Homo sapiens: one gene and its partners. The protein of the gene in region 1 interacts with the protein of each later gene in a biochemical or structural test. Each region holds a gene or a part of one and is shown in the gene's direction. Other genes may lie near its edges. The genes, in order: KCTD3, MAGI2, ARHGEF11, TJP2, PDLIM1, IL16 and GRIP1.

Region 1 (4,133 bases):
TTGGGGAGAGAGGGGATTGACTTTTCAGTATTGTCTTGACTGCTGTCTTAACTGTGGTCTGTTTGCTTACTTACAGAATTTATAGTAAGAAATATGAGATACTTACTTAGATTTAGACTTTCTAAATTTATATATAGAAATACTAGATACAAATATTGAAACAATGTATATTGTTTATACTAAGTATTAAGTTAATTGACTAGTTTGTTTATACACACTTTCATACCACATACCAAAGTAAAGGCTCTGGGATCTGGGATTTTAGCAAAAGTAGGAGGCATGATTTCATGGGACAGTAGAAATTGAGCCTCCTACAAAAATCTGAAGTTTTAAGTTTCTCAGTCCCTGAGAAGACTGGGAAAAGTTTGCCCAGTAATCTTGGAACAAGAAAGTTTGATGTGTGTTTGGTGTCTTGGAATGGGAAAAGGAGATGCAAGAGGAAACCATTAGAAATTGAAACCAACATATTCAAATTAGGAGTGAATTGAAGCACAAAGACTTGCCTTTGTTCTATGAGAACTCCAATTTGAGAAACTGATCTAGGACTATTGACATTTCTAGATACAGATATGACACCAGTTAGAACACTTTCTCAGAAGAGAGCACACAAGAATCCTGTAGAAAGAGTAATTTCTGCTAAAATAACCTCCCAAAACTTATAAACTTCACATGGAAACAAATAACGAAAAGTCATTAAACAAGAAAAAATTTGCAATCCCCAAATTGGAAATAATGGAACAATTAGAAAGCTGCTGTATTGAAGGAATAGGACAAATCAGAAAATGGAGGGAAATAAAATACTGAAAATTAAAAGGTCATTGAAAAAAAATTTTTAATTTTATTTAATGGTTAAATAGAAGCGCAGCTAAAAGAAAATTAGTAAATTGACAGACACGTCTGAGAAAATCATTTCCAGTTGAGCCAAGAGTGAGATAGAAAATATGAAAAAGAAGGAAAAAGTGAGAAAGCATTTCAGATAGGAACAGACTAGAGGAGCCATATTGAAAAAGATAACAACTGCTAACATTTTGGAGAAATGAAAATGGGCATGAATTTATTGATTAAAGAAATGTACCAAGTCTTGGCAGCCTGAATGTTTAAATGTGCTATAATAAAAGATAAATTATGATAAAAAGTATTCATAGAATAGTGACAGTTTGCCTGTCATTAGACTTTGATCAGATTTCTCATCACCAGTAGTAGACACCAGAAGACGACAACGGGCATTCTCCAAATGGTAGAGAAAGTAACTTTCAGCCTAGGTTTTCATACACAGCAAAACTATCATTCAAACCTGAATGAGAAGGGTTTTTTTTCAGAGAGAATTTTTGAAAGGACTACTAAAGAAAAATGCCTTTTGAGAAGAACGTTATATTTGAAGGGGAAGAAATGGAATGCATTAAGCAGTGATTAGGAAAGATGTTGGTAAATACGATGGTAAATTTAGATAAGTGATTATTTAAAAAGTAATGGACGAAGGTTAAAACATCCTGTAAAAAATAATGATAAGTTTACAGGTATAGAGATTGTAGTTAAAAGATTCTAGGGGCCTTATATGGGAAGATAGACTGGTATTTTAAAACTGTAAATTTAAATTTACATGTAGAAATTAGTGGTAATCACTGTGTGCTACCTTATAAGAGAAAAATCCACTTCCATTTTATATTTGTGACCACATGACTGAACCATGCATACTAATCAGTATGGTTTCTTGGATTCTTGCCATGAAGTTGTTAGGACGAAGAAGAGGAGGCCACACAGTGGCTGCTTCCTTGCTTGTGCTGGGAGAGAAGAACTCAGCAGTTGTAACTCACTGTAACTCTGCTTATCCTCTGCTTTCTCTGTTTTCCCGTATGGAGGGGTAGACATGGAAAGAAAGGCAGATCATGATTAAAGGTTACAGAAGGAGAAGTAGCAAGGCTTTAATCCTAGAGCCCATCCTCCCAGAGAATAAATGGTAAAAATGTTTGCCTTTGTGCCTTGGGAAGCGCTAGGCTCCTGCTGCTCTTTCATTGAAAAAAAAAAAAAAAAAAGAATGTATCCAAAGGGAGAAGAATCTCATGGCCTTATCTGTCCCCATTTTCCTGCCATGAAGAATCTGGGGCAGGAGTTGAAGCCCTTTCCTTTAGTGCTAGAACTAAAATGATTTAGCTAACTTGAGTAAGAAAATTGGTTAGTGGTGTGTAAAGCAGTCTCCCCTCCATCCTTTAGACATCTTTACTGATATCACTGAAAAGTACTCAATGTTTTCCTGGTATAAAATGTTTTGGCATTGGCTTTAATTAAAAGCCTGACCTCAGGATAGGGCATGATGATTGAGTTCTTTGAGATATTTCTTGTGTAACTCATAACTGCATGACATTGAGAGGGTACAGAAATTAGGATTATATACAGGAAGAGCTTAGAGGAATGATTATTTCCAAGTTTTAGTTATTTCTGTTTTTAATTAGAATGAACCTAGATTCTGTGCTTTTTTTACTTGCTCTTCAGATATTCCCTTTCCCCTTGCCCTACCTAACTCATAGTTGACTTCAGTCTTCAAGCTTCACTTCCTCTGTGAACCTTCCTTGATCTTTGCTCTTCACCCACCAGCACTGAGATGGCAGTTCTTCCCCTCTCTCCTGTGATTGTATTGTAGTCTATTTTAGTGCCTGTCACACTATAATTGTCTGTTATTTTTCTTTCTCACAAGTTACCAGCTCCTAGAGAGCAAGGGGATACCTCACATCCCTTATCTCTAGTTCATTGTTTGTTTTCTTGGATAATATGTGGTACATAAAAAGTACTTAAATGTTAAGCAGATAATGTTTAGATTTTAACTTTTCAAATGAAAGCCAGGTATAGTATATGAAAAGTAAAAGTCCCTTAACATTTTTAACTTTTAAATTATTGGAAATCTTTTAGACTTGTATGCAAAACTTGGTGTCTTAGTAATTCAAATGTCATCTGTGAAGAAGCTTAACAGGCTTGTCTGGCCTGGCTGTAAACAGGGAAGATTCATTTTGATGAATAGTAGAATATCACTCTAGTAAAATAGTATTGCAACTATCCTAGCAAACACATTTTTTTTTTTTTTTGGATACCAAGTCTCACTCTGTTGCCCAGGCTGGAGTGCAGTGGCACAATCCCCGCTCACCGCAACCTCTGCCTCCCAGGTTCGAGCAATTCTCCTGCCTCAGCCTCCCGAGCAGCCGGGATTACTGGCATGCGCCACTACGCCCAGCTAATTTTGTATATTTAGTAGAGACAGGGTTTCACCGTGTTAGCTAGGCTGATTTCGAATTCCTGACCTCTGGTGATCTGCCTGCCTCGGCAGGTTTCTTTTAGCACAAATATGGGAAGGTATTAATTTGTAAACTAGATTGATTTTCCTGGAAAAACTAATTTTTTTATTCCTATACTTTAAAAAAATAAATACAAATGAGACTTTGTTTCCCTTGCCATTTCCTAGAAAAGAAGTAACCTTTAGCAAGGAGAATGAAAAATAGAGAATACCACCTTTTCAGAGAAATAATAAATTATCAAGGGAGCAAGTACTTTCTGGAAATCAGTTGCTTTGTTTACTAGTTCTGATTCTGTCACTTGCTTACTGTGTAACTTTGGACAGGTCATTTAATCTCTTGTATGAGAAAGGGAAAAGAGAGGGACCTGGTCAGACTCGGCCTTCCAGTTCTAGTGGGCTGCAATCTAGTGATCACATGCAAAAAAAGAGGAGACAACCAATCGAAATTGAGAAAGGAAAGTACTGCTGTGGGAAATACAATTTAAAAAAAATATTTTGAAGGAAGTATATTGATGGTTCTCCTCTGTAGCATGTTTGTGTATATGTGTGTGCACGCGTGCACCTAAAGAAAGTTTATTTCCTAAGCCCTACTAAAATTGGATATTGGTTGCCTCTTTACCAGAAGAATCAAAGTTTTGAGGAAATTGACCAGAAAATAGAAATTATAATTACTATCTAACATCTGATAATACTCTCACTACATCAGGTTCAAGATGTTGTTCCTATAACTAGTTATGACACTGCTGGATCATTCCTTCTGCTTGGATGTAACAATGGATCAATATATTACATAGGTAAGTGTTCAGTCACTTAAAATGCTCCTGCTTAATGTAATTTTTTAAATGAGAAC
Region 2 (4,133 bases), on another chromosome or scaffold:
TCTGTTATTTCTACCACCAAGTCTGCATTTCTATGATACGCATTTCCAAGTCAGAGGATTATCCACAGTCCAAAAGCAGAAGGCATGCACATCATGTCTTTGTTTCTCCCCACTACCACAATCCTTTGACAGCTGGGAAGCATCCAAGTTGGAATTTAAACCCAGGCAGGGCTGACACCAGAGACTGGCAGCCCTCCCCGTGATCTAGCACCAGCCTCCTCTTACCCCGTCTAGCCCTGATTTGAAGATGGGCCTCCACATGGTTTCCTGGCTCTACAGCTTCCCTATAAGCCAGAAGGACACTTTCTTAACCTGCTATAAGGCCAGCTCACAAGCAGTTAAGTAAAACAAAATTAATCTTTCCAGTGCAGGTGAAACACAGTAGGAAGACCATGTGCAAAATGGCCAGAGCCCTGTGAGAGATAGAGACCCACGGTGGACTACAGGGCTGGTCTCTGTCGGTTACAAACAGTGGCCATGTATTTTCACAAGGGATCTAAATGACTCGCTGCTGGATATACACAGTACTCCCAAGGCAAAGAAGCCTAAATAGAGAAATACCCTTGCAGGAAAAGATTCCTCTTTCTTACAGAATTTAAGCCAGAGCAATGGTTCTCAGCACGGTTCCTGGCATCAGCATCACCTGGAAACTTGGTAGAAATGTAGATTCTCTAGCCCCACCCAAAACTGCTGAATCAGAAACTCTAGGAGTGGGGTCACCAGGCTATGTTTTAGGAAGCTCTTCAGGTGAAACTCTGAGGTTTTACCTTCCGAGGTTTTATTATAGATACCTGTGTCAACTGCAATCCAAAAATATTACATAAAATTTTTCAGAAATAAACAATTATAAATTTTAAATTGTGCAGCGTTGTGAGTATCGTGCTGAAATTTTGTCCTTCCCAGAAGGTGAAACAGCCCTTTATCCACACTGTAGATGCTACCTGCCCACTGGTTACTCAGCAGCCCTCTCGATTATCAGATTGACTATCATGGTATCGCACTGCCCGTGTTCAAGTAACCGTTGTTTTACTTAGTAATGGCCCCAAAGTGCAAGAGTAGTGATGCTGGCATTTTGTTATAATTGTTCTTTTTTTATTGTTTTTGATCCCTTGCTGTGTCTAATTTGTAAATTAAACTTTATCATAGATATATATAGGGAAAACAGTGTATATAGGGTTAGTTCTGCCTGTGATTTCAGGCATCCGCTGGAGATGTTGGAATATATGCAAGAGGTATGAGAGGGAGCTACTATATTCACTTTATCAAAAAACCAGTGGAGAGTAGCAAGTTTTGACTTTAATTATTATACTAGATGGTTTTTCAACATCAGTTAATACTGATGTATTAAAAGTTGAATAGATAAAACAAAACACAATCTGTGAATGCAGAAAATAAGGGGAATAATAAAAAGAGATATATCATTGTCACGTCTGCTTGCTTTTCTTCAGTCAGTCAAGAAGGCTGGTGTCATAAGAGAAACACAATGGACATTCAGATTTTAAGGAAAAGGATAATAAATTATTAGAAAATATTACTGGAGCTGTTTATAAAAAGAAGACTTACGTTTGTAAAATGGCCTAATAAAATTGGGAGGGATGAAATTTTCATAGCTAGTGAATAAAATCTCTGATACAAAGCTCCTAGGAATATAACCTAATTAAAAGCCAAAACTAAATAGAAAACACAGGCAAAAAATAATGAACATAAAAAATAATATTGGCAAAGCTCAGTAAAACAGGGAATGTAAGAAATCAGGAGACATTTGGAGGGAAAGAATAGAAATTCTAAGTGCTTAAATAAAAATCTGAGAGTCAAGTTAAAAGAGAAATCTGAAAGGAGATCGTTTGCTCTTAAAATGGTAAAATATTTTCCTGTTTCCATAAAAGTGTAATATAGTTCGCATTTCCATAAAATGTATTTTTATGATGAAAAAGAACATTATTTCATAACTTCATCACTTGCAGCTGGGTACCATTTGTGTATGCCTATTTAGCATCACATAAGCTTATTTATAAGATGGTTTACCTACTTTCTGAAACTCACATGATGCAAAAGTCTGCCTGCAATGGGCTTTGGAATGACTAAAACATTTTGTTCAACCAATCAATGCACAAAAAAATATCATTTGCCCATCTTTTTTTTAAAGGAAAAGCAACATTCCCTGAAATTAGCTTCTTCTAAATTTGTCACCTTTCCTTCTATAGACCAGATATAACTAGTCAATACAAAAGCATCTTGGTTTATATATTGTTTTTATTAAACATAAAACGATTTACAAGAATATTTCTAACATATGTAATAAGTGTAAATACTAACCATGATTCAAGGACCCATGAACCCATAGCCCCACTTAAAAAACAGAACATTACCAAGCTCCCATGATTTCATTCTCCTCCTACTCTCCAGCCCTCAGAGGGAACCACCTTCCTAAATAAAGCACTTGACATTTCTTCTGTTGTTACCACAGATGTGTGTATCTCTCAACTATAACCTTTAGCTTGGTGCACTTTGTGAACTTTATGTAACTGAACCATACTGTACATGTTCTTCTCTGTGGTTTGCTTTCTATATGTTATGTTCATGAGATTCATCCAAGGTTGGTGCATGAAGCTATAGTCCATTTATTTTTCACTGCTATAAGTTATTTCATTATGTGAATATGCTACAACCTATAATAATTATCTATTTTTCCATTTTATGGACATTTGAGATTTTCCCTGTCAATTTACACTTTGGTTGTTTCCAAGTTTGTTGTAACTCATACAATCTTTGTACATCTTTCCTGCTGTACCTATGCAAGACTTTCTCTAGACTAGACTAGATGCCTTGGAGGGCACAAATTTAACTTACCTAAGTAACACAAAAGTATTGTCCAAGGTGGTTTTACAAAGTTATACTTGTATTAGCATATGTAAAAAAGTTTTTCTTACTACACACACTCACAAGATTTGTACGTCAGACTTTTAAACTCTCATTCTGGTAGGTAGAAAATTATATATTTTAGATTTGGATTTGCATTTCTTGATTACAAATTCATATTCATCATTTTTTCTTATATTTATTAGACGTTCATGTTCTCTCTTAACTAAAAAATGCCTGTACATGTCTTTCCTCATTTTCTGTTGAATATTTCTTCATGTTGATTATAGAAATGCTTATATATTATTGGTGATCTTTTTCATCAATTAATGTGATACAGATATCTTATGCCAGCTTATGGCTTGCAGTTTCACTTTCTTTATGATGCTCTTTGATAATGAGAAAGTCTTAATTTTAGCGTAATTGGCTTAACCCTTTTTTTTTTTTTTATAGTTTCTGCTTTCTGTGTCTTGTTTGAGAAATCATTCTCCAAGACATGGTCTTAAACGTCTTCTCTTATATCTTCTTCTAAAAGTTGTATAGTTTTACTTTTTATATCTAAGTATTTAATCACCTACAGTTGATTTCTCTGTATGATATAAGGTAGAACCTCAATCTCAATTTTTCCATATGGATAACCACATGTCACAGCATCATTATTTTTTTTTTTTTTTTTTTTTGAGACGGAGTCTCGCTCTGTCGCCCAGGCTGGAGTGCAGTGGCGGGATCTCGGCTCACTGCAAGCTCCGCCTCCCGGGTTCACGCCATTCTCCTGCCTCAGCCTCCCAAGTAGCTGGGACTACAGGCGCCCGCCACTACGCCCGGCTAATTTTTTGTATTTTTAGTAGAGACGGGGTTTCACCGTTTTAGCCGGGATGGTCTCGATCTCCTGACCTCGTGATCCGCCCGCCTCGGCCTCCCAAAGTGCTGGGATTCCAGGCGTGAGCCACCGCGCCCGGTCCACAGCATCATTATTTAATGAGTATTTCTTTGTCCCACCCCCCACCAATCTGCAATGACAGCTCTATAATAAATTAAATTTCTATAAATGCAGTGGTCTGTATATGGATTCTTTATACTGTTCTACTAGTCTATTTGTCTATCCCTGCATCAATGCCATACTTAGCTACCTTTTAATGAGTGTTGAGTTTTGTATGGGGAAACTTTCTCTCCCCCAGACACACATCTTAATTCTTCAGTGGTGTTGGGATGTTCTTGGGCTTTTGCCCTTCCATATAATTTTAGAATTTTCTTGTCAAGTGTTTTTGTTTTTG
Region 3 (3,500 bases), about 59 Mb from region 1:
GAAGAAACAGGGCGGGAGGAAGAGTCTGGAAGAGGAAGGAGAGCAGACTGAACAGACTTAAGAAAGGGTGAACTCGCTCACCTGACCAGAAATTCCCACCCAGCCTCTCTGGGTGACGGCATCAGCTGTGGAAGAAGACGAGCAGTCTGGCGGGATCCACGGGCCCTGCATCCTCCAGCCAGGGGTTACTGTTGGGGAGGGAGATACATGCTGCAACAATGAGAATGGAAAACATGGCGGGGCTGGGGAGCTCAAAGGGCTTAAGATGCAGTTACTGTGATGGGATTGGTAGAGGGGACAGCATTCTCATTGAGAGCTTGCGTGAGAAATAACCTGGGGTCTTGGGTTTCAGGAGAAATCTCGGGTTTCCTGGCTGGGTCCCTGTTGTTTCCTTCTGCTTAGAATGCTTTTCCTCCTAACGCCACACCTCCTTCACGTCTTCATTCCAGTGTCCTCTTGGCCCAATCTGTTTAATACTGTAGCCAGCACTGTCCAGCCCCTAGCCCCATGCCCTGTTGTTGTTTTCTTCTTTCCGGTGGAAGTTACTGCCTTCTAACAAACTACATAATTGACTGAAGTGTCTTATTTTTGTATGTCCCTCCCCTAGAATGTAAGCTCAACATAGGCAGGGATCTTTTTGTTTTGCTTACTGTTGTATGCCAAGAGCCTGGGACAGTGCTGGCCATGGGAAGTTCTCAGTAAACAACTGTAGAATAAGTCAGTGTTCCCAGCCCCTTGGCTCCAAAGCTGCCCATAGGCTCTCCCATACGTGCCCTCTCCCTTTCCCTGCCTTACAATCTTCTCTCATCCGAAACAGGCACTGGGTCCCAGCAGAGGGTCCAAGGGAAGCACCAGGTCCTGCTAGAGGACCCTGAGCAGGAGGGCAGTGCAGAGGAAGAGGAACTGGGTGTCCTGCCTTGCCCTTCCACATCCCTGGATGGAGAGAACAGGGGCATCAGGACAAGGAACCCCATCCACTTGGCCTTCCCAGGCCCTCTGTTCATGGAAGGGCTCGCTGACTCCGCTCTGGAAGATGGTGAGTGCTTCAAGGCCCTGCCGTCAGCCCCTGGTCCCCAGTCGCACACCCAGTGTGAACTGGCAGGCGCCTGCACCCTCCACCTTCCCGAAGGCTCTTCCTGGTGTGCTTGAGGAGAGATGGATGCGGAGACAGATGTCATTCCCCACCCAACCCCCACCAGCTAGTTGGCCAGAGCCCTCCAGCTTCACCTGTGCCTGAGGTCACCACCTTGGGGTCAGTGGGGCAGTACAACGATCCTTCTGGCGTGGTGTGCAGTCCCATGCTGGGAAGACATCACCCTGTTTCCCCTCCAGTGGAGAACCTGCGACATCTGATCCTGTGGAGCCTGCTGCCAGGTCACACCATGGAAACTCAGGCTGCCCAGGAGCCCGAGGACGACCTGACACCCACACCTTCTGTCATCAGCGTCACCTCTCACCCCTGGGACCCAGGCTCCCCAGGGCAAGCACCCCCTGGGGGTGAAGGGGACAACACCCAGCTTGCAGGGCTGGAGGGGGAACGGCCAGAGCAGGAAGACATGGGTCTCTGTTCTCTGGAACACCTACCCCCAAGGACCAGAAATTCTGGGATATGGGAGTCTCCAGAACTGGACAGGAATCTGGCTGAAGATGCTTCAAGCACAGAGGCAGCAGGAGGTTACAAAGTTGTGAGAAAAGGTAAAATAAATGGGAGTGTCCAGTGGGGAGACAAGCACCCTTGCTAGGTGAGATAAGTCTTCCGAACAGCTGCTTCCTTCCCTATACTCCCCCTGGGTACCGTGTGAGCAGAGACCTACGCTGGGTCCTGGAAGAAGGAGACAACGCCGATATCAGGCAGGCTTTGGAGTTGGACATTCGAGATTCAGAGCTTAGCTCTGCCACTTAATATCTGTGTGGCTTTAGACAAAATTCTGAATCATCTCTGAACTTTGTTTTATAGCACATAAGGACATTTCTTTCTGCCTGGCACAAACCAACTACCAGTACCAGTCTCTGTTAGTGCTCCTCACTGATCTCCTGTTCCCAGGGAAAAGAGCCACTCTTCTCAGGAGCCTCAGGCCGGGAAAGACAGGGCAGGTGCATGCAGCCCCTCACGCCAGGCAACAGCTCCAAGGGCAGTAGAGGTGGCAGCTGGGACTGGAAGGGGTGGAGGACAAAGCTGGGAAGACATTTGGCGAGTGAGGGATGTGGGGAGTGAACAAGGTGGCAGGGAGGGCACCCCGGGTTGGGAAACACCATGGACGGCCTTGAGACAAGAAAAGCCAAGACAAGCTCACAGGGAGGCCAATAGATGAGCCCAGGGAGGAAGGTCCCCACCCCGGGAAGAGTGGGCTGGTCTGAGAGGGTGGCAAGAAAAGTAGAACAAAGCCTGGGGCACACATGGGATGGGGTTCCACGCTAGTGGGCCTGCCCTCCCCTGGGATTCCACTCTGCCTCCCTTCCAGCAGCATTTTTCATTCCATCTGCCCAAGGGCCACCTGTCTCCTGGGTTTCTGGGAACTGACCTTCCTTCTCTGTCTCTCGGTGAATTGGTGGAAAGTTCTCTGCACTGCCTGGGATGTCATCGTGTATGATCTTGTGTTCACCTTGTTCTTCCCATTTTCTCCTCCCCCTGTCCCCACCTCCTGCCCTCTCTCCTTCCTGTTCTCTCTCCCTTCCCTTTCCTTGTGTTTTGGTCTCTCCTCTTCCTGGTGGTGGTGGTGTCGGTGCAGCTGAGGTGGCAGGCAGCAAGGTTGTCCCTGCACTACCAGAGAGTGGCCAGTCAGAGCCTGGGCCACCTGAAGTGGAAGGCGGAACAAAGGCTACGGGTAATAACTTTCTCCTTGGAGCTAAAGACAGGCCAAGACTGGAGTGTGGAACCTGTGAGGGCAGAGTCGGACCCCTGCCCATGGTCACACACACACCCACAAGCTCCCTCAGCTGCCTGGAATGGGGAGGAGGAAGATCTGGCTCTAAAGACGGGGAGATCTGGTTCTAAAGGCTGGCTGTCCATCCAGCCTTAAGAAGCCACCTGTCCAGGCTCCTGTTCAGAATGGCAGGGATAAATGCCTGTGTGCAATTGTGGGAGGGGCAGGGAAGCCTGGCCTGGGGGTGGGGACCTAGTGTCCTTCACCTGATATGCAAGCAGCCACTTCCCCACCTCAGCCGCCGCTCCAGTGTCACTGTGGAAATCGGCTGAAAGAGCCTCCCAGATTCCGCGGTGGTTCTCTGTGCTTCCTGCCTGTCAGGAACCCTCCACGTCCTTCCTCCAGCTCTCTCTGACACCCCTTGGTTGGGTCAAGGGACCTCCAGAGGATCGTGGCATGGATGGAAGAGGGGCAGGGCAGGGCTGTAGTTCATCCAGAGCTGGAGTCAGGCAGGGCAAGAGGGCTGCTGCCTGCTCCTTTCAGAAGAGCCTGAAACCAGCTCACAATCTGTTTACTCAAGGAGGGGGAGCCACTCCAATTTCCCCAAATGAAACACTGCAGCTCTGCCACTTCTCC
Region 4 (4,133 bases), on another chromosome or scaffold:
AGGTAAACAGAGAAAACAGTACTTTCTAGTCATCAGTAGGAATTAACTCTTCCAGGACATGTAGCTTCAAGGACCTTCTAGGTTCTTCTGAGGGGGAAATAATGTTCCACTTGGGGCCATTTTTTTCCATTTGTTGAGAGTCATTTGTTTTCAGAGTATTAAAGGAAGTGTTCCGAGTTCTAGGTTGTGTTTCTTTGATGCCTACTAAAGCTGAGCACACCTGAGACCCTGGGTGGAGCTCTACAATGGGAATAGGAGTAAGTAATGTAGGCTTCGAGAGACAATCATTCTGCTCTCAGTCCTTGGAAGACTGTTCCTAGGTATATATGGCAAAGCAGATGAAATTATTTGAGGGAATTAATTAGCAAAACTAAACATTTCTGTTTTTGAAAGGAATGAATCATTTGGAAGGAACTTCCTGGTGAGCTCAGTTTTAGCAGCCTGGTTTCTGCGTTACCCTTCTGCAGTCTGGCTGAATCAATTGTGTTCTTGCCTGTGATTGGTGAGGATGCACATGCTAGTATTTATTCTAGCCCTTATCACTTCCCATCAGCCCTGAGCCCCTCCCTGGTCTGAGTCATCTTGGTAACCCCAGAAGCTAACAGAGCACCAACACATCCACTAAACGTTGGACTGACTTGATTTGGGGCAGGCTTGTTGTATAAGCTAGTAGGAATAAGAGACTAATTGAGAAATTAGGACAGTGGATTCCTGACATTTATATAGTGAGTAGATGATCGTTTGTTAGAATTGCGAATTTCATCCAGAGAATTTTGTCCAAAAAAAATTATAGAATTTCATCTAGACCATTTTTGTAATGGCATGGAAGCAGCATTAGCTGCACCACTGATTAGCTGGGTGGCTTTTGCTGTCTTGTGACTCTAGTTTGCAATTTCTTTTTTTTTTTTTTTTTTTTTTTTTTGAGGTGGAGTCTAGCCCTATCGCTGAGGCTGGAGTGCAATGGCCCGATCTCAGCTCACTGCAACGTCTGCCTCCTAGGTTCAAGCGATTCTCCTGCCTCAGCCTCCCAAGTAGCTGGGATTACAGGCACACGCCACCACACCCTGCTAATTTTTTGTATCTTTGGTAGAGACGGGGCTTCACCATGTTGGCCAGGCTGGTCTCGAACTCCTGAGCTCGTGATCCGCCTGCCTTGGCCTCCCGAAGTGCTGGGATTATAGGCATGAGCCACCTCGCCTGGCCTAGTTCTCAGTTTCTTTATCAGAAAATGAGTAGTTACAGTTGATCATCTCAAAGTCTTTTGTGCTTAAGATTCTGAAGGTTTTGAAGTTTGAGTATAAAGCCTAGAGAACATTCTAAATTATTTCCATTGGTTCTTCTCATCTTAAAATGTTTTTGTGCTCCTTAAACTACGTTTGTGTTTGCTTGCTTGCTTTCTTTTTTTTTTAGAGATCCAGTGGATTATCTCTGAAAAGCATTTTTTAAAAAGACAGAGTCCAAGAGTGGCTGGTAGTTGTTTTGCTCATAAAGTGATGGAAAGATCTATTATTCAGTTGCAGCTTAAATTATGTACCAGCACCACGTGTGCTGGATTCTCTTCCTTACTTTGCAGCTTAAGCCAGCAACTGCAACCATCTTGCAGAGCTTCTTGAGAATCCTTCTTCCTCTTCCTCTTCCTCTCCACCCCCATGGACTTCTCCCCGGGCCTCATTGCCTGTGACATACGCTTGGAAGGAGGGGCAGGCCTGCAGCTGGGAGCCCTTTCTGATTTGTTCTTCACAAATGTGTTGAAGATGAGCCTACTGGTCACTGCTGCAAAAAACCACATTGTTCACTGGTGTAAAATCACTGCTGTCATCTGAGTTTCAGCATAACTTCAGGCATGTTGGAGTTTTTCAACGTCACCTCAGGCAGAGCACTTTGCCTTCCTTGGGCTGGTCTGTTTAGTGTCTGGGTGAGTTTTAAGAGAGGAGAGACATTGTGGCATCTTAGACACTCACTGAAATTTTCCAGAAATGGAGCTGGAAACATTTGTGCGTTTCCTTCTGGTGTTATTGTTAAAGCCTAAAAACAAGGGCAAGTGGCAACACATTGAAATGAAGAAGCCCCAAGTTTGCAACACATTGAAAGGAAGAGGCCCCAAGTTCGTTTTGAGCCTAAATTGAATTTTAATCAAAGGTCTGAGAGAAATATTTAGTCTACTTATACTATTTAAGTGCACAGTTTGGCAGATGACTTTGGGCAGTGAAGGATCTGGAAGAGGCAGGAAAGGTAGACTCAATCTGCCAGACTTAGAGCTAAAAAAATTTGCCTGGTATGTTTCCATGAAGAAAATTTTCCTGTAGAAGCAGTGGCACGACCTCTGTTACAAGTCTGCTTATTGATAATGAAGCTTTTTCTGTGTTATCAATTTCGTTGAATTTATATGTATGTATATACATATACACACACACAAATCTCAAGTAGAGAGCTTGATGAATTTCTTTTTTTTTTTTTTTTTGAGATGGAGTTTCACTCTTGTTGCCCAGGCTGAAGTGCAGTGGTGCCATCTCGGCTCACCACAACCTGTGCCCTCCAGGTTCAAGCAATTCTCCGGCCTCAGCCTCCCGAGTAGTTGGGACTACAGGTGCGCACCACCATGCCCGGCTAATTTTGTATTTTTTTTTTTTTTAGTAGAGACAAGGTTTCTTCATGTTGGTCAGGCTGATCTCGAACTCCTGATCTCGGGTGATCCACCTGCCTCAGCCTCCCAAAGTGCTGGAATTACAGGCGTGAGCCATTGTGCCTGGCCAGGGAATTTTATTTATTGTGGTAAAGTACACATAACATTAAGTGTACCATTTTAACCATTTTAAAGTATAAAATTCAATGGCATTTAATACACTCACAGTATTTTGTAAACACCATCACTCTCTAGTTCCAGAGGTAGGTGAATTTTTACATGAATGTATTCACCTGCATGATTACCACCTAGATTAAAAACTAGAATTTTCCATCACTCTGGAAGGTTCTCTCTTGCCACTTTTCCAATGATTACCACACCTACCTAAAAGAGAACTTCTCTTCTGACTTCTCTCACCGTGGAACACTTTTGCTTGAACTTGGGAGAGGACCCATATATAAATAAAATCAACATTTTATGTCTGTCATCTTTCACTCAACCTAACCTCTGTGAAATTCATCCGTATTTGTTGCGTGAGATTCAGTAGTTCTTTTTTGCCACTGAGTCGTATTCCATTTATATGCATCTGTCACATTTGGCTTATCTCTTCTGTTGATAGGTATTTGGGTTATTTTCAGTGTTTTTGCTATTATGAATAAAGCTGCCATGAAAAGCACCTACACATTGCCTTGTGGACATGTACACCCATTTCTCTTGTGTGAATTCCTAGGACCATAGGTTAGGGATTTTTTAAAAAACTTATTTTAGATTAAAAAAAATATTTTTTGAGACAGTCTCACTCTGTCACCCAGGCTGGAGTGCAGTGGCATGATCTCAGCTCATTGCGACCTGTGCCTCCCAGGTTCAAGTGATTCTCCTGCTTCAGCCTCCCAAGTAGCTGGGATTACAGGCATGCGCCACTACACCTAGCTAATTTTTGTATTTTTAGTAGAGACAGGTTTCTCTTCAACTCCTGAGTTCAAGCAGTCTGCCCACCTTGGCCTCCCAAAATGCTGGGATTATAAATGCGAGCCACCACGCCCAGCCAGGTTACAGATGTTTAACTTTGATTCTTTACCTCTGAAGTCAAATAAACCTGGGTGTGAATTCTTTTGTCCTGCCACTTGCTTGCTTGACTTTGAGCAATTTACCTTTTTCTCATGTTCAGTTTTCTCAGTTGTAAAATAGGCCTACCCTATCAGTCATGGTTCAGTCAAGAAGACATGTCATTCTAGCTATTTCAAGGAGAAGGGGATTCAATACAGAGTATTAGTTGCCTTCAGGACAAAGAAAAGGCGAGATGCGCAAAAAATGGAAGCCCACCGCTGGCTTTCTGATTTGCCGCAAAAAAAGTTAGAAAGCTGCTGCCACCCAGAGAAGACTCAGAAGGTCTTGCTTGACCTTCCACCTTCTCAGCATCTCCAGCCTTGAGGCTGGTGAAAGGGCAGGGAATCTGGACATGCTGTAAAGCTCATGTCTGAGGAATCCAACTTTTGCCTGCTACTGCTGC
Region 5 (4,133 bases), on another chromosome or scaffold:
TTTCCCATGTGTAATACACTGTCTCCTTGGTAAATGCCATAAATACTAAAAATGATTTTGTGAAGAACACAGCGGTCTTGTAGGAGGCCAGATTCCTTACTGAACACTCAGGGACTAATTTTTATAGACACGACCATTCGTATCAAGTAAGACAATAAGAACATAGATAGGACCTAGTTTAGATAAAGATATTGAAAATGCATACAGAGGCTGGGCTTGGTGGCTTATGTCTGTAATCCCAGCACTTTGGGAGGCCAAGGTGGGTGAATCACCTGAGGTCAGGAGTTTGAGGCCAGCCTGGCCAACATGGTGAAACCCTGTCTCTACTAAAAATTCAAAAATTAGCCAGGCGTAGTGGCAGGCACCTGTAGTTCCAGCTACTCAAGAGGCTGAGGCAGGAGAATTGCTCTAACTTGGGAGGCGGAGGTTGCAGTGAGTTGAAATCACGCCACTGCACTCCAGCCTGGGCAACAAGAGCGAAACTCCATCTAGAAAAAAAAAATGCATACAGATAGATTAAATATGGTTGATGCAGCAAATAGTTTGCACCCATTTCTTTAAAAAAATAATAAAAAATACTTATGCTTCTGAAGCTGAGCATACCCATACCATATAACCCAACAGTTCTCCTAGTTAAATAGTCAATAGAAACTGGGTCCACATGAGTGCTAAAGGACAAGTTTGAGAATTTTCCAAGCAACACTATTCATAATAGCCCCAAATTTGAAACGATTCACATGTCTAACAGCAATAGAATAGATAAGTAGTGGGTGTAATTATATGGTATAAAACATCACAGCAACAAGAGTGAAGAAATTACAACTATGCACAGTGACATGAAGGAGACACACACACACACACACACACACACACACACACAGAGAAAAAGGCCATACCTAAGAGTGAAGAGTAAATACTGTGTGATTCCAGTTACATAAAATTAGACAGAATTAATCTACAGTGTTAGCAGTCAGGATCATGGCAGACCTTTGCCGGAAGGTCAGTGACGGAAGGCGGGCACAGGGAGGTTTAGCAGTTCAGGTAATGTCCTCTTCTTTATCCCATGCTGTTTCCTTGGGTGTGCTCTGTATGTGAGAATTCAATCAGCTGTATCGTTACCATTTGTGCTGTATACATGTCATCCTTCAGTAAAGGTTACATAGAAGCCCGCGTAATTGTTTAAAAGATCGGACAATATAAACCTACAGAAAGCATAAGGTAAAAGGCTTCCCCAGTCTTACTTTACAGAGGTAAACACAGTGAACAGCTGGCTGCAAACCTTTCCAGACTTTTTCCGCACACGTAGCATTTCTAAAACCAAATTACTATATCTCAGTGAACTATTGGGACTTCATTGCTTTGTGCTTTCTGCCTTATTTTTACTGTAACAAATCAAGAATTAAAGACATCTTAATGTCAAGGGAAAAATACATTTTTGATATCTGCTAGATCTAGTTCAAACCTTATCTTGTCCATTTACTAGCTTGTATGTTCTTGGACAGGTTAACCCCTGAAAATTCAGTGTCCTCATTTGCAATGTGGGAATAATAGCGCTTGTCTTCAAAGGTTGTGGTGAGGATTAAGATGATATATAGAGAGAGCCTAGTGGTACTATTAAACTATTAAATATTAAAAATATTAATGGTAGCTACTATATATTGAGTGTTTATTACGTGCCAGGCATTGTTCTGAACTCTTTACAAATGCAGTCTCATTTAAGCCTTCCAGCAACCTGATGAGGTTGATGCATTATAAATTTCATTTGATAAATGAAGATACTGAGTCAGAGAGAGTAATTCCCTCAAGGTTTAGTGAGTGTTTAGGCTTTGGGTTATGGGTGGTAGCTGTTGGAGCTATTTAAAAGCACGTAGGGTTCATAGGAGCTTGTTTGGAAACTTTTGAGGAACTCGACGACTTCTTGACGGAGTCTCGCTCTGTCGCCTGGGCTGGAGTGCAGTGGCATGATCTCGGCTCATTGCAACCTCCATCTCCTGGGTTCAAGTGATCCTCCCACCTCAGCCTCCCAAGTAGCTGAGATTACAAGCGTGCGCCATCACACCTGGCTAATTTTTTGTATTTTTAGTAGAGATGGGGTTTCACCATGTTGGTGAACAGGCTGGCCTTGAACTCCTGACTTCAAGTGATCCGCCCATCTCGGCCTCCCAAAGTGCTGGGATTACCGGCATGAGCCACCACGCCTGGCCTCGATGACTTCTTAAGAATTTAGTCAGAGTATTCTATTTGGCTACCTGTTTTATTATATTCCTGTCTGAGAAATGGTGGTCGGTCTTTCAGACTGAGAGAGCAGCACGTCTCTTTGAACTGTCACCCCTTAGCACTAATAACTTCTTTTTGCACCATGCATAGTGTGAAGCTGGATTAAGGTGCAACTTATCTACAAGCATCTACCCTATTTTATTGCCTCATTTCCCTGAGAAAATGGTTATAGACTAACCAAGAACATTTTAAAACAGTGTTATGTTTTCAGGTCACCCTGTGTAAATGCATACAGCTTCTGCAGCCATAATATGGCTGTGAAGTCTGTGCCACAGCCTCGGCTCACAAACATACTGAGTCAGAAGATTCTGACTAAAGAGAGTTCAAATTCCACATGTAAATGGCATCCTACAGAGCTGGGTCCTGCTTTATCCCCAGTTTAGAATCTGTTAAATTTGTACCCAAATACCTTGACACAACTGTTAAATCAGCGGAGATTATGCTTAAAGGCATGTAGCATTGCGATTGAACTTGAATCTCACATTTCTTTATCCCAGTTGTATATAATTATTACTATCGTTATTTAGGCTGTCTCTTTCACTTACTTGCAGGCTTGTCTTAGGCTTGTCTTTCACTTAGTTACACATTTACAATATTTAAAACACAAGAACACATATAAGATTTAACAAAAAATTGGAACATGGAAGAGGAAAGAGAGAGAAGTGCCAGGAACTTTAAATCAGTTGGTTCTGTAATTGCACACTACATTTAGCTGTGAGTTTTCTGGCCAAGGGAAAATAGGACCCACGTCGAGTTATTTAGATATCTTGTTTGGAGTTATTATACTTCTACTGGTTGGACGCAGTGGCTCATGCCTGTGAAACTAGCACTTTGGAAGGCCGAGGTGTGAGGATTGCTTGAGGCCAGGAGTTCAAGACCACCTTGGCCAACACAGTGAGACCCCATCTCTATTTAAAAAAAACAACAAAATTACTTATGCAATGCTTCATTTGCATAGCATTTTCAGGGGTGTTAACCAACATTACAGGGGCTGTATTTTTTTGTTTGTGTTTTGTTTGAGACAGCATCCTGCTCTATTGCCCAAGCTGGAGTGTAGTGGTGCTATCATAGCTAACTGCAGCCTCCACTTCCTCCCAGTTTAAGCGATCCTTCCACCTCAGTCTCCTTGAGTAGCTGGGACTACATGCCTGGCTAATTTTTAATTTCTTGTTCAGACAGGGTCCCACTGTGTTGCCCGGACTAGTTTCAAGATCCTGGGCTTAAGCAGTCTTCCTGCTGTGGCCTCCCAAAGTACTGGGATTATAGGCATGAGCCATCCCTGCCTGGCCTATTTTTTTTTTTTTAAGTCTGTTTTGGTAAGAGATAGAGGAATACTATTCTAATGGATATTCCTTTCAAGGGCTTTGTATGTATTTTATAGGAGTATAAGTTCTGCCCTTGAAGGTGTTTCTGGAGGAGCTGAGATTTTAGGGTCTAATTACTTTTTGTCTACCTGATGACTTTAACTTCATTCAGGGAGAGAGTTTAAGGGGAAAAGATAGTCATAGTCATCATCTCTCTTGGTGTTTCCAAACCTGATGAGCATTAACATTTTCTGGGAAGCTTTAAAAAGGTATGGGTTCTTGGGTTTCACTGTATAGGCTGTCTTTGGTGGATCTGAGATGGGTTGTGGAGCTCTATCTATATTTTGAATCCCTGCCCCCATGGGATCTGATGACCAACCTGTTTGAAAACCATTGCCTCATCCTTGCAAATATCACAGTTGGCTGAGTATTGGTGAGTGGGGTTGATTTCTGGCCTGAGGTTTAGAGCCAACTCCAAGGGGCAAGGTTAACAACGTTCCATAAAGAGTCAGGAAATTGACCTGTAGTCCTGTCCACAAATAAGCCTTCTGA
Region 6 (4,133 bases), on another chromosome or scaffold:
CATTGCTAGTGGGTCACAGTTACCCACTATGCAATGCTGAGTTTCCCATCCTTACCCAGAAGCTGTCTCCCCCATCACGGAATGGCCCTGCAGGGGCCCTGGCCCTTCCCTTAAGCACACCGTGGGCAGGTGGGAGGGGGCCTCTGGAAATCCCCTAAAACAATCTACAGTGAGGGTTGGCAAGCTTCAGGAGGGGTAGCGGTGGAGACGGGATGTTGAGTAGGAGGGGTGAAAGTGAAGGAGGGAGGAGGAAGCCAGGTTACTAAAAAGGAAGTGCAGTTTTGCAGAGCGCTGGCAGGATGTGGCTGGTTAGCAACACATGATGGAGTTATCAGATGGATCTGTTCTCCCACCCCCTCTTTTAAGCCCATATTTCATTTTCCCTTGGGCCTGAGACCTATGAGTCCAGAAGGGCAAATCAGGAGCAGCCAGCTGAGAAGCCAGTCATTTTGCCTTCCTCCTGGAGGCCCAGAAAAGGAGTGCAGTTGCCACAGCAGGTCTGTCCCAGTGATGCCCTTGGCAGAGCCACATAGGGTCAGGGAATATTCCCGAGTAAGGCGTCTGGAGAAGGAACTGGGGTGTCCTCAGGGAAGCCCAGGCAAGGAACTTCCCACAGGTCATCTTTCATGCCCTGTGTGCCTCAGCAGAATACAGGGCTCCCTCCTGTACCTGCCCCCAACAGCACCGTCTCCTGGAGACAAGGCCGTTCTGCAGCTGCCCTCCTCTGTTTGCTCTGGTCTGTCCCACGTGGCCAGCAGATCCTTCTCCCACAAACATTTCCATAAAAGCAATCAGCACGACATAATTTTATTGGGCACTGGAGAGGCGGGGGTCACAGAGAAAGGATCATAGCACGCAATAGAAAACAGGAAGCAATTTGCTTGAGGTCACTCTCAAAATTTCCTTGACCATTCCTGGGGATTTCTCACTGGATGTTTTCTTCCGTGGCCACAGTGTCCACTGTCTCACTCTCCCACTTTTCCCTCCCTGCAGTCTTTTCTCTACAGGGTCCCAAGACTGTTGTCAAGCTGCTATGGATGACCCCCAAGTCTTTCCCATCTACTCTAATTCAAGGGGACTTAACTCTCACAACCAATATGAACTTTGGGATATTTTCTTCAACAAAAAACTAACATCCCTCTTATAAAAAATCAGCCTAAACTCTCCCCCGTGCTTTAAAAAACTTGCTTAAAAAAACACAACAGGATTTTCGAAGAATCCTTTCTTAGAAAACAAACAAAAAAACCAAACAAAAACGTACTTTCTCCCCACTATGCTGAATCTGCTCTCTCCCTCTTTCCTTCTTTCTCTTCTCCCTCCCTCATCCACCAAGCATGGTTCCAGGAAACACTAGTAAGAGAAAAATTTGTGTAAAATCAAATTTATTTCAGGGGCTAATTCTGAAGTCTCCCATGAAGAGGATGCAATATTGGATGTGTTGATGAAAAGACAAAACACATTTGTGCTGTTCTAAGTTGTAAAGCTGCATTGACTGCAGTTGGTATCACATGTGGCTGCCTGTAAAAGAGCTAACAATTCATGAATGTCAACAGATGTCAACTTACAGAGCTCCCAACCAGGTGAAATTAAATTTCATCCCCATGTAATTTCTCTTGTGGACAAGAGACTTAGAGATCATCAGGCCAATATTTGGAGCTTCTAATGCCATGACTCAGCCTTACTTTTTTTAAGGGCTAGTTCGAGAAGCTCAATGATTCCTTTGAAATTGGTTGATCTCTCAGTATTTCATAATGCTCTCCTAAAGCTCAGTTCTACAGTAGGGAACTCGAGCTGAGGCAATGCTCTGTGAATACACTTCTAACTTTTGTAGACCTTTGCTTCCTCCAAAATGTTTATTGTCAATGTAGATCTTAAATTTCAGGTCATGGATATTTGCCATTGCTTTTTTAGTCCCAAAGGATGCATTTGTTCCTTCCTCTTTCCTTCCTCTCTGGAAGGAAGCCTGCAGCCATGTCAAATGGCCCATCATTACACAAATCTGGAATGAACCGGACGTGGAGGCCACCGCAGTATAGCAAAGCATTTCTCTTGCAGACAATCAAATACAGGTGGCATCATTTTGATGATGTCTGCTTTCTCAATCTTTTTTTCCAGATGGGTATTATGTTTGGTTGGGCTATGTCTCTGGAACACTATTTTTCTGCCTCTCTGCCTGCAAAATTCTTACTCTGTTTATGAAGCAGACAGAAAGTACTTCTCTAGGAAGCCTTCTCCACCTCTGGGATGGAACTGGTCTCTCTGTTTCCTCTGGGCCCTGACAGTACCTTAAGCACACTGTGTGATAATCCAAACTCTTCAAGTATTGCATAGCTATTCAGAGCCTGGTTCATCTTGTCCCTAGGCTGTTTTGGGAGGACCCCAAGGCTGCATCCAGGCTCAGTGGTGGAAACAATTCTGCAACAGATTGAGGATGTCACCCTAGGTGCCACAGAGGGGAGCAATGGCACAGGTGCTGAGTATCTGTCATCTTTTGCAGAACACTTACTAAATATTTGAAGAGTGCTTAACAAGTGACAGCAATTGACAAGCATTTTCCTGAGTGCTCTAACCTTAGGGAACACTAGCTGCCAGGTTTTTTTGCTGCCTTGTTTCTACGCTGCCCTATACCCTCCCGGGGTGGGTAGTTCACCAGATGCAGTTGTAACTGAAGCAATGCCAGTCCCTCCACACTCAAAGCCTTTTGTTCCTATCATAAAGAGTCAGGGTCTTCAAGTATGTCAACAGTATGAGCCCATGACCTGGATACCAGGTTGCTGGAAGTCAAGGGATGCTCTGCATGTCTAGGAGGTGCTGGCTCTGCCACGTCAGCACCAAGGAGAAAAGAATCCTCTTTACATGGCTGCTGATGAACTTCTCACTGAAAGCAGCTCAATATCCGTTTTTCCGTCCCAATCAAAGCGTGTCTCGCCTTCTCACAGCTTGAGGCTACCGTTTTGACATGGTCTCGCTTCCTGTTTACACCACAGGAAGCGAGAGAGCTGCTGCCACTGCTGCTACCACAGGAAGACACAGCAGGGAGAAGCCCTAGTGCCTCTGCCGGCTGCCCAGGACCTGGTATCGGCCCACAGACCAAGTCCTCCACAGAGGGCGAGCCAGGGTGGAGAAGAGCCAGCCCAGGTAAGCTTTCATTGAGATCTTCCAAAAGGAAGGGTCTTTTGAAAAAAGGTGCAGGGATAAGATAAGAGCACAAATTGGCCTGAGGATCAGAGTGCTCTGCATTGACATCACCACTGGACCTGGCTGATCAACAGTCAAGGGTTCCAGGTGCTGGGCAGCAGCACCGTGGAGGTGCTGTCCAGGGTGGGGAGCCTCCTGGGTGGACGGGTGATGCTGTGGGGGTGGCAGCAGGAATGCAGGCCATTCTGGATAATTGGGAGGATGGAGCCCTTGGAAGAGGTCCAAAGACACACCCACCCAGCCATCCTGGGCAGCTACCTCTAGGGTGCCAACATTCCAGTTGCAACAGTCCTGCTGCATTCAGGATTTCTGAGTCAGAGAATGCAACGCCAGAAAAGTATAAATAGCATCTACCAGTGGTCACCTCCTCCATGAGGTGGATAGCAAGGGTGTGTCCACATGGTACACCTGACAATGCTAAGACATGACTTGAATATTTATTTGCTTGCTAGAGAGAGCATAGGACTTGAAGTCAGGGAATCCTGGATCTGTCTGTCATTAGTATGATTCTGAGCAACCTACTTTGCCTTTCTGAGCCCAGATTCACTCATCAGCAATGTGTGGAAGAGCACGTAGACCCCAAGCATATGATGCATTCAGCAAGCACACATTGAATGCTGGCTTCGTGAGGCCCTGTGCTAGATGCTGGGGGGAGAGAGAGAAAGGGATGAGACCAGGTAGTCAGGTCCTGCCTCCAAGGAGCAACTAGTAGTGGCAGGAAATAAACATATAGACTATAAAACATATGACTGTTTGAGTAACACTACAGAAAAGCTCATGAAAGACTTTTGGAGGGCTAAGGGACATTTTGGAAAGATCTAGCACATCTCACCCAGAGCAGAGGCCCTGTGGGTGGAGGCTCCTCTCCCTTAGTCACCCTAATTGAGGAACATTCTAGCAAAAGCAAACGCCTCAGTGTTTAACTGACAGGAGGT
Region 7 (4,133 bases), on another chromosome or scaffold:
ATCACAGGAATGTGTCCTTCTTAGTTAAGAGGTACCATTTCCCAGATTTGCATCTCCATCACTATCTAAACTCATTGGGTGACCTAACAATTGCCTTCTAGTCAGTGAGGACTCAGATGCCAATAAAAAAATGTCTCCAAATAAGGCAGCCTGAAACAGACTATCCTAAAGCCATTCACTTCATCTCTGGTATTATTTTGTCATCTTTGCGTCTCAAGTTACATTGTCAAAAAATAACATGGAATACTCACTCTGCAGAATGAGCTGAGTAGAACCAGGTGCCCCCCTTCTCCCAATGAATGGGACTACCCCCAACTCCCCTTCCATAGTCCAGTGTTTGTTTTCATCTTGACTGCAGTTTCAATGGACACTTCCCACTGGTTCTTGGGTCTCCAGGTCCTGGGCAACTGTCCTTCTCCCCAAAACCCATAAAGAGCAGATGCTCCAACCCAAAATGCTTGGCACCCATTGACAAGTTTGTGCTCATGCTTGCCTTATGCAGAGAGCAATAAGGGGTCAAGGTCTTTCCTATGGCATACACACCTCCACTGAATGGCCCACACAGAGTGTCCAGCAGTAACTAATGTTCAACTGTGCCAGGGACTACTAATCAAATGACTCATTCAGAATTTCATCCAGGATATTGTTGATGATGAGGGCTGCAAAGTACATGTAATCTATCCAATAGTACTCTGTTCATTTAGGTCAAAGCCAGCTCTGAAAGGTGACAAAATATCGTACTGTAGGAAAATTTAGACTTTTGACCTCTGCTGATTATTTGGTTACCCTCTATCTTGATGTTTCTCTCTGGAGCCCTTAGCAGATCATCACCAGCCTATTGGCCACAACTTCAGCATCAGCCCAGAAGAAACTTGTGAACCAGCAAACAGAGCTGTTTTAGGCTTGATATGGGAGCTTCTCAGCTGCTAATGTAAATTTGAGCCCAATGTTGAAGATTTTGTGCCCTAAAATGTTGACTTAAGCATTGCAGTGTGTGGTGGATGGTCTTTAGTTCTGAATGTGTGGAGTAAATACGTTGAGTAGAGCACTCAGAAAGTGGAGGTAATGGCTGCATTCAAAACTCCCAATCTATGGCCAGAAGTGAAGTAAGTGCTGGCGAGAGAGGACACATTGCTTCCCAAATGACTTGATAGACCTTTCATTTTATATTCATCATAATTCTTCACTGCAAACACAAATAATTGAATTGTTAACTCAAGCTTTGGTTTTCCTCCTTATTTTAGGATTTCATATCGTAAACGAACAGCTGCTCACTGCAAAAATGTGGCCATGTTAATGCTTCACTAGGATGTAGTCTGACTGTAAAAGCTGACTATTTTGCTAAAGTAGCCACTGAACCATTTCATTTTATCCTTAGTTGCAGAAATGAAACAGTTCCTTAACCATTCACAGCTCCCAGGCCCAAGGAATAAAACAAGAAGTGCCCAAGAACTTTAAGCATGTCAGAAGCAAATAAAACCTTTGAATTCTGAGACTTCTTATTTGCAACTCTGACACCATCACAATACCCATCACGTTGAAGGCGGCCCATGATATCTTTCTGGCCAGTGCTTTAGGCAGAGCACATTCACAAGTGTCTTCAACTATAATAATGTTGAATAGCCAAAATTAGTTTATGACAGTGTGGCAGGCTGGTCTATGCTGTTGAAACATAGCTTACAACAGCTGTTACTCCATTGAAAGAGGAGAGATGATCATTCAAACCTCCACTTTAATATCCGTAATTCACTGATAGGACTCACATTAGAAGACAGTCAGTGGAATGATATCTAAGAGATTCTAGATTTCTTGCTGTTGTCTTCAAGTTTACTTATCTAAGTTCCACTTAACCATATATATGTTATTTGTTCCAACCCTTCGCAAAATCCACTTTTCTATATCAAAAGTTAGCATGCATGTAAAGCTTAAAACGGAAACAGCGTGACCCAATGTCTGTCTTCTTTGTTACTGAGTGACTCTCTCCTCTCATATTATAATGCCTCCTCAGCCATATGTTTATTTCACAGATATTTACTGCATACTTACTAAATGCTAGGTAAGCACTGTCCTAGACATGGACACAGTTGAAAGGTCCTGCAGCCCCAGCTGGGCGGATCTCACACATTTAAAACATAAGTCATTAGGCAGTGTTCCTCTCCCCTGGCACTGACAATGATTATATCCCTGTATTTGAATGTAAGATCCTACTAAGGAAATGCTACTTCCCAAAATAATTATTTTCTGTGACATGATACTTTGACGAGGATGTTTTGAATTCTTTTATGTATGAATCTATGCATCTTACTCTTTTGCTTTTTCCAAAGAAATCAATTATGATTCCTTGGCATTTATTACAGATGAGCAAGAAAGTTCCGGAGCAATTATTTACACCGTGGAGCTTAAACGCTACGGGGGGCCCCTTGGCATCACAATTTCAGGAACTGAAGAGCCGTTTGATCCTATAATCATTTCAAGCCTCACTAAAGGGGGATTAGCTGAAAGGTAAAATTTGAAGTAACTGTTATAATTACCTGTGTCTGAGACGGGCTTCCTTCCTCACAACCACATAAAAACATGCTCCTCTCTCTGTGGTTATCTGTTGGCTTTTAAAAATCTGCACAAAGGATTGATCTTAGAGCCTGAGAACTCTCAGGCAGAGTTCCGACTTGACTCTGAGGGGCATCTTACAGGCAGTAAAAGACGTCTTGGGCTTAGCATTGATACTACTCTCTGAAATGTATAAGCTGACCACAATTGACTGAAGGCGGATTTGTATTGTGTCCATTTTGAGAGGAGGAAACTAAAGTTCAGGGAGGTTGAACAGCTTGTCCAATTTCATTCAGCAAACACTTGCTGAGCCTCTGTTACCTGACAGGTGCCACACTTAGCTGCTGTGTTTTCAGAAAAGGATGATACAGACATCATCTTCAAGGATTATGGGAAACAAAGTGTATAACCCATTTTAATAATGTCTTAAAAGCTGGAATGTCCATTTTTTCCTTTGGCAATGATGTACACACACACCCACTCCCCACCCTCCGCTAAACTGCATTTCTTTCTGAGATGTGTTGTTGGACATATAACAAACCCTATAAGCAAATCTGCCCTCCAGTAACCTAGCTCAGGAATACACAAATGCATTGTTCCTGCTAACAGTTGAAAACAGTGGCTAGCAAAATAGAGACACAGCATTGCAAAATGTTGGAGCTGCAGTGTACCTTAGAAATTAGCTCATACAGGCCAGGTGCGGTGGCTCACACCTGTAATCCCAGAACTTTGGGAGGCCGAGGTAGATGGATCACGAGGTCAGTTCAAGACCAGCCTGGCCAATGGGGAAACCTCATCTCTACTAAAAATAGAAAAATTAGCTGGGGATGGTGGTGCTTGCCTGTAATCCCAGCTACTTGGGAGGCTGAGGCTGGAGAATTGCTTGAACCCGGGATGCGGAGGTTGCAGTGAGCCAAGATCGTGCCACTGGACTCCAGCCTGGGTGACACAGTGAGGCTCTGTCTCAAAAAAAAAAAAAAAAAAAAAAAAAAATCTGTAGAAAGAAAGGATGCTCCATGCTATCCACTACATTTGTCATTCAACATTGTTCATTTTCTTGGGATTTTTAGGGTGCTTAACCAATGACTCAGCTTTCTTGGAATTAAAAAACACAGTTCATTTTAATAACTAATTAAAACAATTTTTAAAATTTTATTGGAAACTAAAAAGTAATCCACAACAGATGCAGTTATCTTATAACATTGCCCAGGAGAAAGCAAGAAGGGACTTCTGGAGATCCTTACCAAGTCTTTATTATGATGAATGTATAAGGTATGTCAGGGAATTTATATTCAGTACCATACAGGGATTATTTCTACCTCTCCTATTACTATTTGGCTTTTCAGAACTGGCGCAATCCACATAGGAGACCGAATCCTAGCCATCAATAGCAGCAGCTTGAAAGGGAAGCCTCTGAGTGAAGCCATCCATTTGTTACAGATGGCAGGAGAGACTGTCACCTTGAAAATTAAGAAACAGACAGATGGTGAGTAGTGAATTGAAAGCCACAATTAAGGATTTCCAGTGCATTTTCTTCCTTGAAAGAATGTGCTAGTGTCTGTGTGTAATTCTAGGGAAACAAATCT

What was found.
Region 2: the proteins of KCTD3 (region 1) and MAGI2 interact in a test that uses a peptide from one of them, tested with the Homo sapiens proteins (one large-scale study listed by IntAct).
Region 3: the proteins of KCTD3 (region 1) and ARHGEF11 interact in a test that uses a peptide from one of them, tested with the Homo sapiens proteins (one large-scale study listed by IntAct).
Region 4: the proteins of KCTD3 (region 1) and TJP2 interact in a test that uses a peptide from one of them, tested with the Homo sapiens proteins (one large-scale study listed by IntAct).
Region 5: the proteins of KCTD3 (region 1) and PDLIM1 interact in a test that uses a peptide from one of them, tested with the Homo sapiens proteins (one large-scale study listed by IntAct).
Region 6: the proteins of KCTD3 (region 1) and IL16 interact in a test that uses a peptide from one of them, tested with the Homo sapiens proteins (one large-scale study listed by IntAct).
Region 7: the proteins of KCTD3 (region 1) and GRIP1 interact in a test that uses a peptide from one of them, tested with the Homo sapiens proteins (one large-scale study listed by IntAct).

What each region holds. Positions count from the first base shown.
Region 1 is NC_000001.11:215,597,878-215,602,010, forward strand, and holds part of KCTD3 (BTB/POZ domain-containing protein KCTD3), read left to right. Parts: intron 1-3,989; coding exon 3,990-4,077; intron 4,078-4,133. UniProt on the Homo sapiens protein: Accessory subunit of potassium/sodium hyperpolarization-activated cyclic nucleotide-gated channel 3 (HCN3) up-regulating its cell-surface expression and current density without affecting its voltage dependence and kinetics.
Region 2 is NC_000007.14:78,120,407-78,124,539, reverse strand, and holds part of MAGI2 (membrane-associated guanylate kinase, WW and PDZ domain-containing protein 2), read left to right. Parts: intron 1-4,133. UniProt on the Homo sapiens protein: Seems to act as a scaffold molecule at synaptic junctions by assembling neurotransmitter receptors and cell adhesion proteins. Plays a role in nerve growth factor (NGF)-induced recruitment of RAPGEF2 to late endosomes and neurite outgrowth.
Region 3 is NC_000001.11:156,937,743-156,941,242, reverse strand, and holds part of ARHGEF11 (rho guanine nucleotide exchange factor 11), read left to right. Parts: intron 1-169; exon of another isoform or gene 170-185; coding exon of another isoform or gene 186-188; intron 189-817; coding exon 818-1,036; intron 1,037-1,332; coding exon 1,333-1,695; intron 1,696-2,729; coding exon 2,730-2,825; intron 2,826-3,500. UniProt on the Homo sapiens protein: May play a role in the regulation of RhoA GTPase by guanine nucleotide-binding alpha-12 (GNA12) and alpha-13 (GNA13). Acts as guanine nucleotide exchange factor (GEF) for RhoA GTPase and may act as GTPase-activating protein (GAP) for GNA12 and GNA13.
Region 4 is NC_000009.12:69,180,345-69,184,477, forward strand, and holds part of TJP2 (tight junction protein 2), read left to right. Parts: intron 1-4,133. UniProt on the Homo sapiens protein: Plays a role in tight junctions and adherens junctions. Acts as a positive regulator of RANKL-induced osteoclast differentiation, potentially via mediating downstream transcriptional activity.
Region 5 is NC_000010.11:95,280,729-95,284,861, reverse strand, and holds part of PDLIM1 (PDZ and LIM domain protein 1), read left to right. Parts: intron 1-4,133. UniProt on the Homo sapiens protein: Cytoskeletal protein that may act as an adapter that brings other proteins (like kinases) to the cytoskeleton. Involved in assembly, disassembly and directioning of stress fibers in fibroblasts.
Region 6 is NC_000015.10:81,293,941-81,298,073, forward strand, and holds part of IL16 (pro-interleukin-16), read left to right. Parts: intron 1-1,077; exon of another isoform or gene 1,078-1,391; coding exon of another isoform or gene 1,392-1,442; exon of another isoform or gene 1,443-1,508; coding exon of another isoform or gene 1,509-1,580; exon of another isoform or gene 1,581-2,987; coding exon 2,988-3,138; intron 3,139-4,133. UniProt on the Homo sapiens protein: Interleukin-16 stimulates a migratory response in CD4+ lymphocytes, monocytes, and eosinophils. Primes CD4+ T-cells for IL-2 and IL-15 responsiveness. Also induces T-lymphocyte expression of interleukin 2 receptor. Ligand for CD4.
Region 7 is NC_000012.12:66,392,577-66,396,709, reverse strand, and holds part of GRIP1 (glutamate receptor-interacting protein 1), read left to right. Parts: intron 1-2,357; coding exon 2,358-2,502; intron 2,503-3,893; coding exon 3,894-4,033; intron 4,034-4,133. UniProt on the Homo sapiens protein: May play a role as a localized scaffold for the assembly of a multiprotein signaling complex and as mediator of the trafficking of its binding partners at specific subcellular location in neurons.